Linked DNA regions of Homo sapiens: all the other regions are linked to region 3. The links come from fine-mapping of genetic effects on gene expression. A gene starts in region 3. Each other region holds a variant in brackets. All regions are shown on one strand. Distances are between the middles of the regions.

Region 1 (4,164 bases), 81 kb after region 3:
AAGAAAAACTAGCTTAATAGTTTTCTGACCACTGTATCTAAGGTTGAAATTTCCATTCTTGTTCCAAGAGAATATCCAAGTCTGAGGGGCCTCATCAGCAAAGGTCAAGTAAATTGTGCCTTAAGATATATCTGTCCCCAGCCTAGGTGTAATTGCTAGTACAGGACATTTTTACTTTAGAATTTGCAAGCAAAAGATAGCAACTGAAAGTGACCACAGATCTTCATGCATAGGTACACTTGGGAAATAGCTAAACAGATACATTTTATTCCAAGTAAACTTATACATCTGGCTTCCTTAAAACTTTTCTCCCTCTTATTTTGCCAAGGAGTTTTAAATAAATCATCAAAATTTTATGGAGAAATATTTTCTACGTATAACTAAATTATAGTATTAACAGTTATGTGGTTTGAAAACATTAGTTACATGTTTTTCTAGGAAATAGAAGTTGTGCTACTAGAAAGAAAATGTGCTGTATTTTCTAAGGTTTTGTTTTGTTTTTTAATTTTTCAGGCTTGAACTCAAACTTGAATGTAAATATGGATATGAACAGTATTAAAGAGCCACAGTCAAGACTAAGGAAGTGGACGACAGTGGACAGCATTTCTGTGAACACATCTTTGGATCAAAACTCCAGCAAACATGGTACAAAAGATACATCTTACCAAAAAAAAAAAAAAAACACACACACCTGCAGAATACTAGATTTAGGCCTTTATTTTATTTTAAATGTGTTTTCAAAGCCAAATTATCTTAGAACTTTTCCTCATTTAAAAAAAGTTGTTATTAAGTCTTAGTTACAATAAGAGACTTTCAGATGAAAAGCAGAATTTACCTCTACTCTGTTTTATAAAGGAGAGATCAGATGATACATGTTTAAAAATTATTTTCTCTTTGGCTTTTTACATTTTTCTAAGTGATTTTATTCTTATATTATTACACTTATTAACATTTACTGGATTTAATTTGATATGTTCTTAGGACATTTAAAACTTCTACCAGGGTCCCATTCCGTCACCCAGGCTGGAATGCATTGGCATGATCTCAGCTCACTGAAAACTCTGCTCCCGGGTTCAAGCAGTTCTCCTACCTCAGCCTCCTGAGTAGCTGGGATTACAGGCCTGAGCCACCATGCCCGGCTAATTTTTGTATTTTTAGTAGAGACAGGGTTTCATCATGCTGGCCAGGCTGGTCTCAAACTCCTGACCTCAGGTGATCCATCTGCCTTGGTCTCCCAAAGTGCTGCGATTACAGGTGTGAACTACTGCACCTGGCCCATAATTTTATTTCTATCAATTCCTTATATATGGACACATTTCTTTATATAGCTTATTGCTATGTGTAAGTCATATGGATTTAACAGTATTGTCTTTTCAGCAATTAAATTTTTTTTAGAAATGCCGTTTTCATCTTATTTAGTATTATCCATTCACCCAGCAAATATTAATCGAGTATCTTCTGCTTTCCAAGGCTATGTTAGCACCTGGAATACATAGACACAATGTACATACATGCTTACAGTTGAATGTATGTATGTATGTATATACGTAAAATTACTTGCCCTGGAATTGTTCATTGTGAACGAAAGTATGTCAGCAGCTTTAGTACAATATAATAGGTAATATCAAAGTTAATATTTATAATAGTTTAATAATACCAAGTTCCTTAGGAGCATTGAGTCAGGAATAACTGCAGGTGTGGTGGGTCTAGAAAGGTGAAAAAGACTTACCTTGAGAAGAGTAAGTTTACCACACAAACAGGAAGAGCAACCAAGAAAGAATAGTGCATGCAGGGTTCAAAGAGGACTGCCTGGTGAATTCTGTATCTCGGCATATCTGGGGGTGAAGGTGCAAATGACAGAAAAGAGGTAGATGAAGATGGAATAGTAGGTGTGGTGCAAATCATGGAAAACTTGTGCCAAGAATGATTTTAAACATGAAAATGATGGGTGCCTAGAGGCAGTTAAGACTTAAAGTAGTCTAGGTAAGAGAGAGAAAGGTCAGTGGACATGAGAGGGAGTACACTGCAAGAGAGTTTCAAAAATTAAAAGCAGAAAAGCTTGGTAACTCACTTAACTCATTCTTTCATTCAGCAGTGTAAGCCTGAAACACTTGCATAACTGATCAGCTAGTCAGTCTCCAGCCCTCTCCAGACAGACCCCTCAGAGGTCAGACAAATACAGGACGGACCCGAGTCGCAGGCAGAAAAGAATAGGTGTTCGCCGTAAATCATATCATTAGAGTGGCCTAGGTGTAAGGCATGCAGAGGCACTCTTAGCTGGCAGAGTAGTCCATGGGCTTGGAGGAGCACAGGAGCTGAACAGGCGACGGTCCTGGCACACTTTGGAATGTGCA[A/G]TCCAGTCTGCCATGCTAACCCTTAGCTGCACACTGCACACCTACAGTAAGAAAAGTCTGATTTGTTAAGGGGAGTGGAGGCAAGGACATTTGACTAGGAAGTTCTGCATTACAGAAGGGTTAAACTGGATGTCTCAGATACTCTATGGGCCTAAGATTCTGTGACTTCCAGGCAGTTTATAAAATCCCTTCATCTCAGCACCCAGACGGATTTGGTGACATGTATAGAAGGAGATTTTTTATTTTAGCCTTGGTTGGAGGCAGTTGGGCAAGGCTTCTAGGAGGCCTGTGATCTCTGAAGCTGAGATATGAAAGATAAACAGAAGTCAGGCAGGCAGAGGTGAAGGGAGGGGAAACGATGAGAGATGGAGCGGGGCTAGAATTTTAAGAGCCTTATAAACTTGAAGAATTTGAACATTGCCTTTTGTATGTTGGAGAGTACTAAGCCAGGAGATGACATGATCAGATTTGCACTTTCGAATGATGCCTCTGGGTGCAGTGTGGAGAATTGGAGTAGATCTAGTATAGTCATTATCCAGGAGCTGTGGAGGAAGTGGAATTGACAGGGCTTGGTGATTCTAGCTTAAGCAGCCTCAAATGTATGATTGCTAGTAAAATGATATTTTTGTGACATTCTTTTTTTTCTATTGAATTTTACTTTGAAAGTTTATTAACTAAACTTTAGGGTCAGATTTCTAGATTGTACACATTGGACTAATGATTTTCAGAAATTAAAATTGTCGTGTAATAGAAGGAACCGCTAGACCATAAACCAAACAGACCTTTGATTCTAAGTTCGTTTGCCGTTCAGGGGAATGTCACTTTGGGATTTTTTTTTTTTTTTTTTTTTTTTTTTTTTTTTTTTTTTTTTTTTTTGAGACAGAGTCTCACTCGGTCACCCAGGCTGGAGTGCAGTGATGCAAATCTCTGCTCACTGCAACCCTCGTCTCTGGGATTCAAGTGGTTCTCGTGCCTCAGCCTCCTGAGTATAGCTGGGATTACAGGTGTGTGTCACCACACCCGGCTAATTTTTGTAATTTTAGTAGAGACAGGGTTTCACCATGTTGGCCAGGCTGGTCTCGTTCTCCTGAACTCAGGTGATCTGCCTGCCTCAGCCTGCCAAAGTGCTGAGATTATAGGCGTTAGCCACCAGGCCCAGCCCGGAATTTTTCTGACCTGAAGAGAGAGAACAGGGAGTTGAGACAATGGGGAAATGGCAAAATAAATATGAATCCTAGGTTCGAGACCTAGCTCTGCTACTAATTGACTCTGTTATTCCAGTCATGCACCACTTAATGGCAATGTTTCAGTAAACAATGGGCCATATATCCAGTAGTGGGTCCATTGAGCTTATAATACCATGTTTTATTGTACCTTTCCTGTTTAGCTATGTTTAGATACACCCTTCTGTTACAGTTGCCTACATTACTCAGTACAGTAACACACTGTAGGTTTGTAGCCTAGGAGCAGTAGGCTAGGCCATAGGGCTCTGCTGTGTAGTGGGCTCTACCATCTAGGTTTGTGTAAGGGCACTCTGATGTTCACACAAAAATGAAATTGCCTAGTTTCTCCAAGTGTAGCCCTGTTAAGTGACACGTGAGTGCAATTAGCTACTTGGCAAGTAACTTAACCTTTCTGAACTTGAGGTCCCTCATCTGCCAAATGGAATTAATAGTACCTCTTGGGCTTTTTTTTTTTTTTTTTTTTTTTTTGAGACCCCAGTTGCCGAGGCTGGAGTGCAGTGGCACAATCTCAGGTCACTGCAGCCTTGACCTCCCAGACTCAGATGACCCCCCCACCTCAGCCTCCC
Region 2 (4,255 bases), 74 kb after region 3:
GAGTTAAGAAATACAGGAATAGCAGGCTTGATAGATACTGCGTTTGAAGGTGCTCTGAAAACCACCTGGTCCAGTAAACAGTCGAAAATCTGGATGTGAAGCTCAGAATAGATGGGGCTGGTGATATGAAGTGTAATTAATTAGATGTGGATGATAGTGTAAGCTATAGGAATAGTTTGACTAGAGAGAGTTGGAGGATAATGGACCGAAGACAGTCCTGGGGAATAATGGCATTTAGGGGAGTGATCCTAAGCAGAAGTGGGACAAGTTAGAGTAGAATAATTTTTCAGACGCCAAGTGAGTACAGAGTTTTGAAAAGAAAAAACTGATTGTCAGGGAATGGATTTGACAGTGGGGCTCAGGGGTAGTCATTGGTAACTAATGGACCTTACTGGAGGACTGGTGGACTGAGGGGAGATTGCCACATTTGAGTTTCTTTTTAAAGGGATGCAGAAGTGTTGGAGAATGGTTTGTGGAAAAAATGTAACATGCTACTCTCTTTTTTTTTTTTTTTTTTGAGTTGGAGTCTCACTGAGGCTGGAGTGCAGTGGCGCAATCTCGGCTCACTGCAACCTCTGCCTCCCAGGTTCAAGCGATTCTCCTGCCTCCACGCCCAGCTAATTTTTTGTATTTTTAGTAGAGACAGGGTTTCACCGTGTTGGCCAAACTGGTCGCAAACTCCTGCCTGCCTCGGCCTCCCAAAGCGCTGAGATTACAAGTGTTAGCCACCGTGCTCAGCTGCTACTACTCTTTCAAAAGGTATTTGCATAGGCAAAAATAATGTGAATTATCAAGAAGGAACAGCTTGGAGAGAGAGTTAGGAGAACTGGTTGGAATTGGTTACAGGATTAGATGAAGAGAGTGGGGGAAAGAGTTCACAATGGCTAGCTTAGTTGTTATCAGTGAATTATGACATCTTAACAGGGAGAGAGAACAGAGGAGGGAGCTGTGGTAAGGATTATTGACATTCAAGAGAGGGCTCTTAAACAACTGTGAAAGGTGGATTTTTTAAATACCAGATTCATGACTGGAACAGTACTTCTTAGCTACTTTAAGAATTGTTTTCCTTTTCCACTTACCTGGAATGAGAGTAGTAAAGGTAAGTATTATGGTGGTGGCAGACATCTCAAAGAACAGCAGTTGCAAAGAAATGATGGATGAGATTTGAGGATTGAGAAAACGTCAAGAATGAGGAATAGGGAGATGAAAACCTGTGTTAACAGTGACAATGAGGCCGGGCACAGTGGCTCATGACTGTGATCCCAGCACTTCAGGAGGCCGAGGTGGACAGATGACTTGAGGTCAGGAGTTGGAGACCGCTTGGGCAACATGGTGAAGCCTTGTCTCTACAAAAAAATGCAAAAATTAGCTGGGGGTGGTGGTACATACCTCTGGGCCCAGCTACTCAGGAAGCTGAGGTGAGAGGATTGCTTGGGCCGGGGAGGCACAGGCTGCAGTGAGCCAAGATTGTGCCACTACGCTCCAGCCTGGGCAGCAGAGCCAGACACTGTCTCAAAAAAAAGTGACAATGGGACATCGAAATGGATGTGCTTTAGCAGGCAGGTAAAAATGTGGGACTGAGCTCAGTTGTGAAGTCTAAGCAACATGTTTATATTTGGGCATCACTTGAATGGGAGTGACTGCTGATACCCTGATAGTGAATGAAGTCTAAGGAAAGCAAGTTTACAGAGAGAGTCAAAAGACTGAGACCCTGAGTCTACTTTGTCAGCCGCAGAGTATCCCAGCATTGAAGAAGCACCCGAGGTGAGCTCAGCATGGGTAGAGGAAGAGAAACCAGAATGGACAGATGGTGAGGAGGGGTGGTAGAGAGCATTGTCCACTTTTAAAAGATTTGTTGAAATAGAGCAGTAGCTTTTGGGCCGGAGCTGGCTATATCCAGCAAAGATTTTGCAGGAAAAAAGTTTCCAGGAGAGAAGATCATTTTTTATTGCAGAGCAGTCAGAATGAGGAGAGGAGCAGACAGAGCAAAGCCTAAGAGAGGGGAAGATGTTACCCTGTCTGGTGTCCAGTTTCCTCATCTGCTAAAAGGGCGATAACAGTAGAGTTACAAACATTAAATTAGTACACATAAAGCATTCATAGGCCAGGTGCGGTGGCTCACGTCTGTAAATCCAGCACTTTGGGAGGCCAAGGCAGGCAGATCACCTGAGGTCAGGAGTTTGAGACCAGCCTGGCCAACATGGGGAAACCCTGTCTCTACTGAAAATAAAAAAATTAGCTGGGTGTGGTGGTGGGTGCCTGTAATCCCAGCTGCTCAGGAGGCTGAGGCAGGAGGATTGCTTGAACCCGGGAGGCAGAGGTTCCAGTGAGCCAAGATCACACCACTGCACTCTAGCCTGGGCTACAGAGTGAGACCCCTTCTCAAAAAAAAAAAGAAAAGAAAAAGCACTTATAATGGCGACTGACATAAACCAGGCATTTATTAAATGGTGGTTTATCACAGTGGGTGTTGATTGTTTTTATTACTTGTTAATGGAAACTTACCTGTATTATAAAACTCAGCAGATTAGAGATGGCTAAAGGTGCCTTAAGTTATGTAACCTAAGAGTCCTTTTAAAACGAGGCCGGGCCTGGTGGCTCATACCTGTAATCCTAGCACATTGGGAGGCCGAAGCGGCCGGATCACTTGAGGTCAGGAGTTCAAGACCAGCCGGGCCAACATGGAGAAACCTACATCTCTA[C/G]TAATAATACAAAAAATAGTCAGGTGTAGTGGTACACTCCTGTAATCCCAGCTACTCGAGAGGCTGAGGCATGAGAATTGCTTGAATCTAGGAGGTGGAGGTTGCAGTGAGCCGAGATCCCACCACTGCACTCCAGCCTGGGCCACAAAGCGAGACTGTCTAAAATAAAAAAGAAAAAAAAAGTGAGGTTATCAGCCAGCCACCTTCTGTTTACTAGTCTATTTCAAGTTAATTATTTCAGTAAAATAACAGTATCTCCTAATTGCGACTTCATTTGTGAGGAATGCAAAATTTATGAAATGGAAGTGTATTTTTCACATACCCTTGTCTTGGCTGAAGTCATTTCAGTTTGGAAAGTGAGTGTTTTGCTTTTGTTGTAAATTTATCTGAAACCAATTGGGTTGTCTTCCTGTTTGATAACAGTCTCCTGCCTTTATTAGGAATGTTACAAGACAAACGAATGGAGATAGATAAACATAGCCTAAATATTGGTGATTACAATCGAACGGTCGGGAAAGGCCCTGGTTCTCGGCCTCAGATTTCCAAAGAGTCTTCCATGGAGCGCAATCCTTATTTTGATAAGGTAAGGTTTTTTACTTTTACCTCTGACTTGATAAACCAGTATACTTCATAGCGTAATTTTCACACTAATATTTTAAAACCTTTTATATAATATAAAGTGTTACAATCCACTACCAAATCTTATTACTGGATTTTGAAGTTCACTGTCTTTTTATGTCTCAATTTATCATAGAGGTTGCATTTATATTTTTCTTCTTAATCCCATGAAATATGTTTGGCTCTTTTTGTGTGCTCTAGAATTAACACTAATCCGATCTCTTCTGTTTTCTACCTGTTTCCTGTTGATGCTGGAATGTCATGTGACTTCTCTTCTGTTCCTGCAATGATTTCTCCCTTCCACTTGTTTGCTTGGCTGGTGTTGCACATCTTTCTGTCTGTCCAATCAGGATGGCATTGTAGCAGATGAATCCCAAAACATGCAGTTTATGTCCAGTCAAAGCATGAAGCTTCCCCCTTCAAATAGTGCACTACCTAACCAGGCCCTTGGCTCCATAGCAGGGCTGGGTATGCAAAACTTGAATTCTGTTAGACAGGTAAGTCCAGATGTGTATTTTAGGCTCTCAGTTGAATGATTTGTATTAGTAATAAGATCTCTCTTACATGTAGTTACTGTGTTTAAATCATAGTACAGTGTGGTAATGAGATGTTTGTCCCTAAAGAATCCCACTGTTACTTGTTGCTGTTTGTTTTTATAGAATGGCAATCCCAGTATGTTTGGTGTTGGAAACACAGCAGCACAACCCCGGGGCATGCAGCAGCCTCCAGCACAACCTCTTAGTTCATCTCAGCCTAATCTCCGTGCTCAAGTGCCTCCTCCATTACTCTCCCCTCAGGTAAATAAGCTTTCCTTACATTCTCCTGTTTACCTGCAAAAAGGATCTTGCATGATTTTGTATTTGAATAAAATGGCTAACTAAGCATTATCATATTTATTGGCATCTTTGAGATTCAGCTAGTTTTGAATTAACTAT
Region 3 (4,255 bases):
AATATTTAGTAGAATCCCTGGTCTGTAGCTATCAGATACCAATCAGTAGCATCCAGTGTGACAACCAAAAAGTTCATTGCTAAATGTCCCCAGGGGTAGGGATGGGGGCAACATTGTCCCAATTAAGAATCACTGAGTCATTAAAACCTAAAAAAGTCTAATAAAAAAAAAATCAGCCAATCTTAACAGCTGTGCAAATGTTGATAAATATGACTGTTTTCATTGCCTTATGTTGTTGTGAAAAATTATTCCTAAACCTGGTATGAAAGCATATTGTGCCATTACGTATATGTTCATATTTTTAAACTCCTAATGAAACACCATAGTAACTTTTAAACATTTTAAGTAGAAAGGATTATGAAAGAAAAACAAATATGTGTGTAGGTAAATGAACCTCAGGGATGATAGCAGGAAAAGGAAAGTCACTAGCATTTATTCGGTGCCCACTACATTTTATATTTTGTAAACCTGATTTTTTTTTTCAAAAAAGTGTTTTTTATATGCTCATCGCAAAAAAGAAAAAAACAGATACACTAAAAGAAGAAAATGAAAAAAAGTCATAATCAGTTAACGTTTTGGTGCATATGTTTCATGACTTTCTGTGCATTCATTCACTAGCTTAACCTATCGGAGAGGACAGGAACCCAACATGTCTAGGGAAGTTTTGTTTGTTTTTAACGGGAGAGATTCAAGCATGTTGTAAAGCCAGTTGAAGCTGGGCGCGGTGGCTCACGCCTGTAATCCCAACACCTTGGGAGGCCGAGGGGGGCGATCACCTGAGGTCAGGAGTTCAAGACCAGCCTGGCCAACATGACGAAACCCCGTCATTACTAAAAATACAAAAATAGCTAGGCGCAGTGGTGCGTGTCTGTAATCCCAGCTACTTGGGAGGCTAAGGCAGGAGAATTGCTTGAACTCGGGAGGCGGAGGTTGCGGTGAACGGAGATCGCGCCACTGCACTCCAGCCTGGGAGACAGAGCGAGACTCCGCCTAAAAAAAATGATAATATAATAAAAAAATAAAAAAAAAAGCCAGTTGAAGAACTTAGGTTAGAAAAAGGAGAATGGGATGATCCACAGAGTGGGGTTTCTGAGAAAGTAAAGGTTATAGATTTTAAGCACAGAGGAGGAATTATCTTTAAATTAGAAGAAAAAGCTTGATGAGAGGTTGGAAAGAACACACGCAAGTGAAAATATGTATCTTACTGTATCTACATGTATGTGTATTGTTGTATCTACCTGCAGATATGTATGTCTTATTGTATCTACATGTAGGTATGTATGTATACTTTTAATGTACACATATGCATCTGTGTCTACATATATACATATCTTAGTCTATCTACATGTATGTATCTTACTGTGTCTACACTAAGATGTTTCTTACTGTGTGAGCTACGTTGGAACCTGCTTTTTCATTTATTCTATTGCAACCATTTCCTCCATGCCGGGATTATTCCTCCACATCATTTTTACAGTGTCCTAATACATGCCAGTAGCTGTTTTTGAAGCCATCTAGTAGCGCTGGACATTTTGGCTGTTTGCAATTTTTCACCATCATCAATACCACAGCTTAGTATCTCGAAGGTGAAATATTTGCAGATACCCAGAATTATTTCCTGAGCAGAAAATCCGTGCAGGCGGAACTGCTGAGTCAAAGGTCGGTGGATAAAAATCGCTTTTAAGCCTCACAACCCGCCTCAGGTATGCATTCTTTACCTGAGGAGGAACAGAGAAGCAGAGAGGTTAAATAACTGGCCCAAGGTCAAAAATAATTAGAAGTGGCTGAATTCAAAAGCCGCGCGGGCTCATCAGGCTGCAGTTGGGGTAAAATTTGCGTTTTAGGCAATTTTTTTTTTTTTTTTTTTTGGCGTGTGTCAGTGGGGGAGGGGCCGGGCGGCGGGTAGGAAACTTGTGTCGCAGCAAAGAAGGAGGAGGAGGGGAGGGACTCCCCTCCTCGGTCAGACCGGAGCCGGCCGCACCGAAAAAGGTTGGACTCGGGACTCCGCAGGCCCCCCCAGCCACTCCGCGGGGCGCCTCGGAGGCTGTGACCTCCAGGGAGGTCCGGCTGGGTGCAGCGTGACACGCCGGGGCGGTTGCCAAGGACCTGCCCAATCTGCGGGTCCAGTTGCTAGGGCCTCCATCTTGGGGGCCAGTGGCCGTGGCGCCCCCGGAAGGGGTTGCCGAGTGGGGCATTCACTTCCGGTCTGGGGCCTGCGGCGGCGGCGGTGTCGGCGGCGGCGGCGGCGGCGGCGGCGGCGGCGGCAGCGGGTCGGTGTAGAAAATGGCGCTGGTGCAGCGGCTCGGGCCTCTCCCCGCGGCGCTGCGGAGGGCTTGAGGCTCGCGAGCCTCCTTCGCCGCGCCCCACTTGCTCGTGCACTTTACACACATGAGGTGAGCGGAACAAGGGCCTCCCTCCGGGCGGGAGGAGCCGCGGGCGCTGCCGCAGGGCCCGCAACCCGCGGCGGCGGCAGCAGAGGCGGCGGCGCCGGGCGTCCCCGAGACTTCGGGCCTCGGCGGGAGGGCGCAGGCTGCGTTGCTGCGGAGGCCGAGCGGGCGGCCCGGGGGAGCCTCGCTGCGCCGCGCCGCGGGGGCCAGGCCGGGGTTGCGCCTCGCCCGCGCCGCGGGACCGCAGTCCGGGCTGCAGCCCCGCAGCTTTGTGAGTCCCCCTCCCCCCGTCCTCTCCCCTCCCCCATCCGGCCCCGGCGCGAGCCTCTGCCGCAGCAGCTCCGTTTTCACGCGCATCTCGTTTTTGTGTGTGTGTTTTTGTTTTGTTTTTGTTTTTGTTTTTTTGTTTCAGAGAATTGGAAGCTAAAGCTACCAAAGACGTAGAAAGAAATCTTAGCAGGTAAGATGGGCGAGCTTTCCGTCTCCCGCCCCACGATAATCGTATATTTCTACTCCGATTCGCCTTTTCTGGGTTGAGAAGTTCCCCCGTGACATTTTCTTCCGCACCCGGAGAGCAGACATTCGGGAGAAGCGGCCTGGGGGAATACTGGAGGGATTGCGGGGAGATGCGTAATTACGCGTGTGTTTCTTTCTTTAAAAAAAAAAAAAAAAAGCGCAAAGCAATTCTTGTAAACTTAGTTAAAGCATTCTCACCCTTTTAGAATTTAATTAGGGGACTTGTGCATTAATTACTATTGTAAATGGTTGCAGGCATTGTGTGACTCATGATTGAGGCGGCCCTTATGGCGGGCTGTCAAACTGTTTTGGCTTCCCCGTTATTACTTTGTAGCTCAAATTGTTGCTTTTATAAAAAGATACTATGTGTTCGCATTCCCCCCCGCCCCCCCCCCCCCCCCATACATTGTAGTCAGGCGGATTCTGTTGCATTGGACACAGTTTTGTCCTTGAACTTTACCAAGCATAAGCTGCGTTTTGTTTTCCTTCGAAACTCCATTTCTGTCCATGTTCGGTGTGTGCTCTTTTTATCAGCTGGTAAAATAATTAAAAATCTTTTCTCCAGAAGAGGTTATCGTTCCTGTTGGGCCCTGCTGCTTTTGCATCACCGTGAAGGGAGAATTTTTTTTTTTTTTTAAACGATGTCTTTATGGAATGGAAATATTTAGCTTCATTGAGCTGTAATTGCTTAAGCATCAAGGAATTGTACTGTATTTAACTCCTTTTCACATTCATTTTCTTTCCTACCGTCTTTTCCTTTCTTATTCCCCTTTTTCTTTTGCATCATATTGGGACACTCAGGGAAACTTAGCCAATTAACCAAATCCGTGAATAGCTTTCTTTTTTTCTTTTTTTTCACTTGTTGAAAATAAAATGAAATTTCTCCTATCTCAGGTTTTAATGTAGTTTGCTCTTGATGATTGCGGGTTTTAGGTTTACATTGGGGTTTTTAACACTCACATTTCAAATCGTCTGAATATTTTGCACCGCGTAGAATTGTTCCAAATTGCTGGCCTATTGAGTTTCATAAGATACTAATCTGTTCAGGTGATCGTTAAAGAATGTGTTCAGATGGTGAAGGATAGGCATCATTGGTTTACCCAGTAAGGGATTCTCTGTTACTCAAAATAATTATGGGATCATTTAAAGGAAATTAAGTCTGACATCACTGACTATTTGTGGTATATTTACATAAATTTTGTCAAAATCTAGTAAGGAAATGTTAAGATATGAAACCATTAAAGAAAACAGGTTGAGCCATTAAGGTGTAATATCAGCAGAACAGAGCTTAGAGGTCTGTTTCTCCTTCCATTTTTGTTTTATCAGGTAACTATATCAGTATAATTCCTATG

The links. PIP is the estimated chance that this variant, and not a neighbour inherited with it, causes the effect. A credible set is the group of variants that fine-mapping cannot tell apart.
Region 1: its variant is the best candidate, but not a certain one, in a credible set for the expression of TNRC6A in whole blood (TOPMed, PIP 0.58).
Region 2: its variant is the best candidate, but not a certain one, in a credible set for the expression of TNRC6A in whole blood (TOPMed, PIP 0.79).

What each region holds. Positions count from the first base shown.
Region 1 is chr16:24,808,837-24,813,000 of GRCh38, forward strand. It overlaps TNRC6A (trinucleotide repeat containing adaptor 6A), which reads left to right. Exons shown (of 25, transcript NM_014494.4): 18 at 514-645. Among named protein-coding and RNA genes, the nearest start is that of SLC5A11, 35 kb to the right of the region's middle. The variant A/G (reference allele first, on the strand shown) is at 2,355.
Region 2 is chr16:24,801,035-24,805,289 of GRCh38, forward strand. It overlaps TNRC6A (trinucleotide repeat containing adaptor 6A), which reads left to right. Exons shown (of 25, transcript NM_014494.4): 12 at 3,143-3,285; 13 at 3,671-3,817; 14 at 3,980-4,117. Among named protein-coding and RNA genes, the nearest start is that of SLC5A11, 43 kb to the right of the region's middle. The variant C/G (reference allele first, on the strand shown) is at 2,703.
Region 3 is chr16:24,727,454-24,731,708 of GRCh38, forward strand. TNRC6A (trinucleotide repeat containing adaptor 6A) reads left to right here and starts at 2,198. Exons shown (of 25, transcript NM_014494.4): 1 at 2,198-2,393; 2 at 2,800-2,847. The coding sequence starts at 2,389. RefSeq lists a silencer at 2,227-2,536.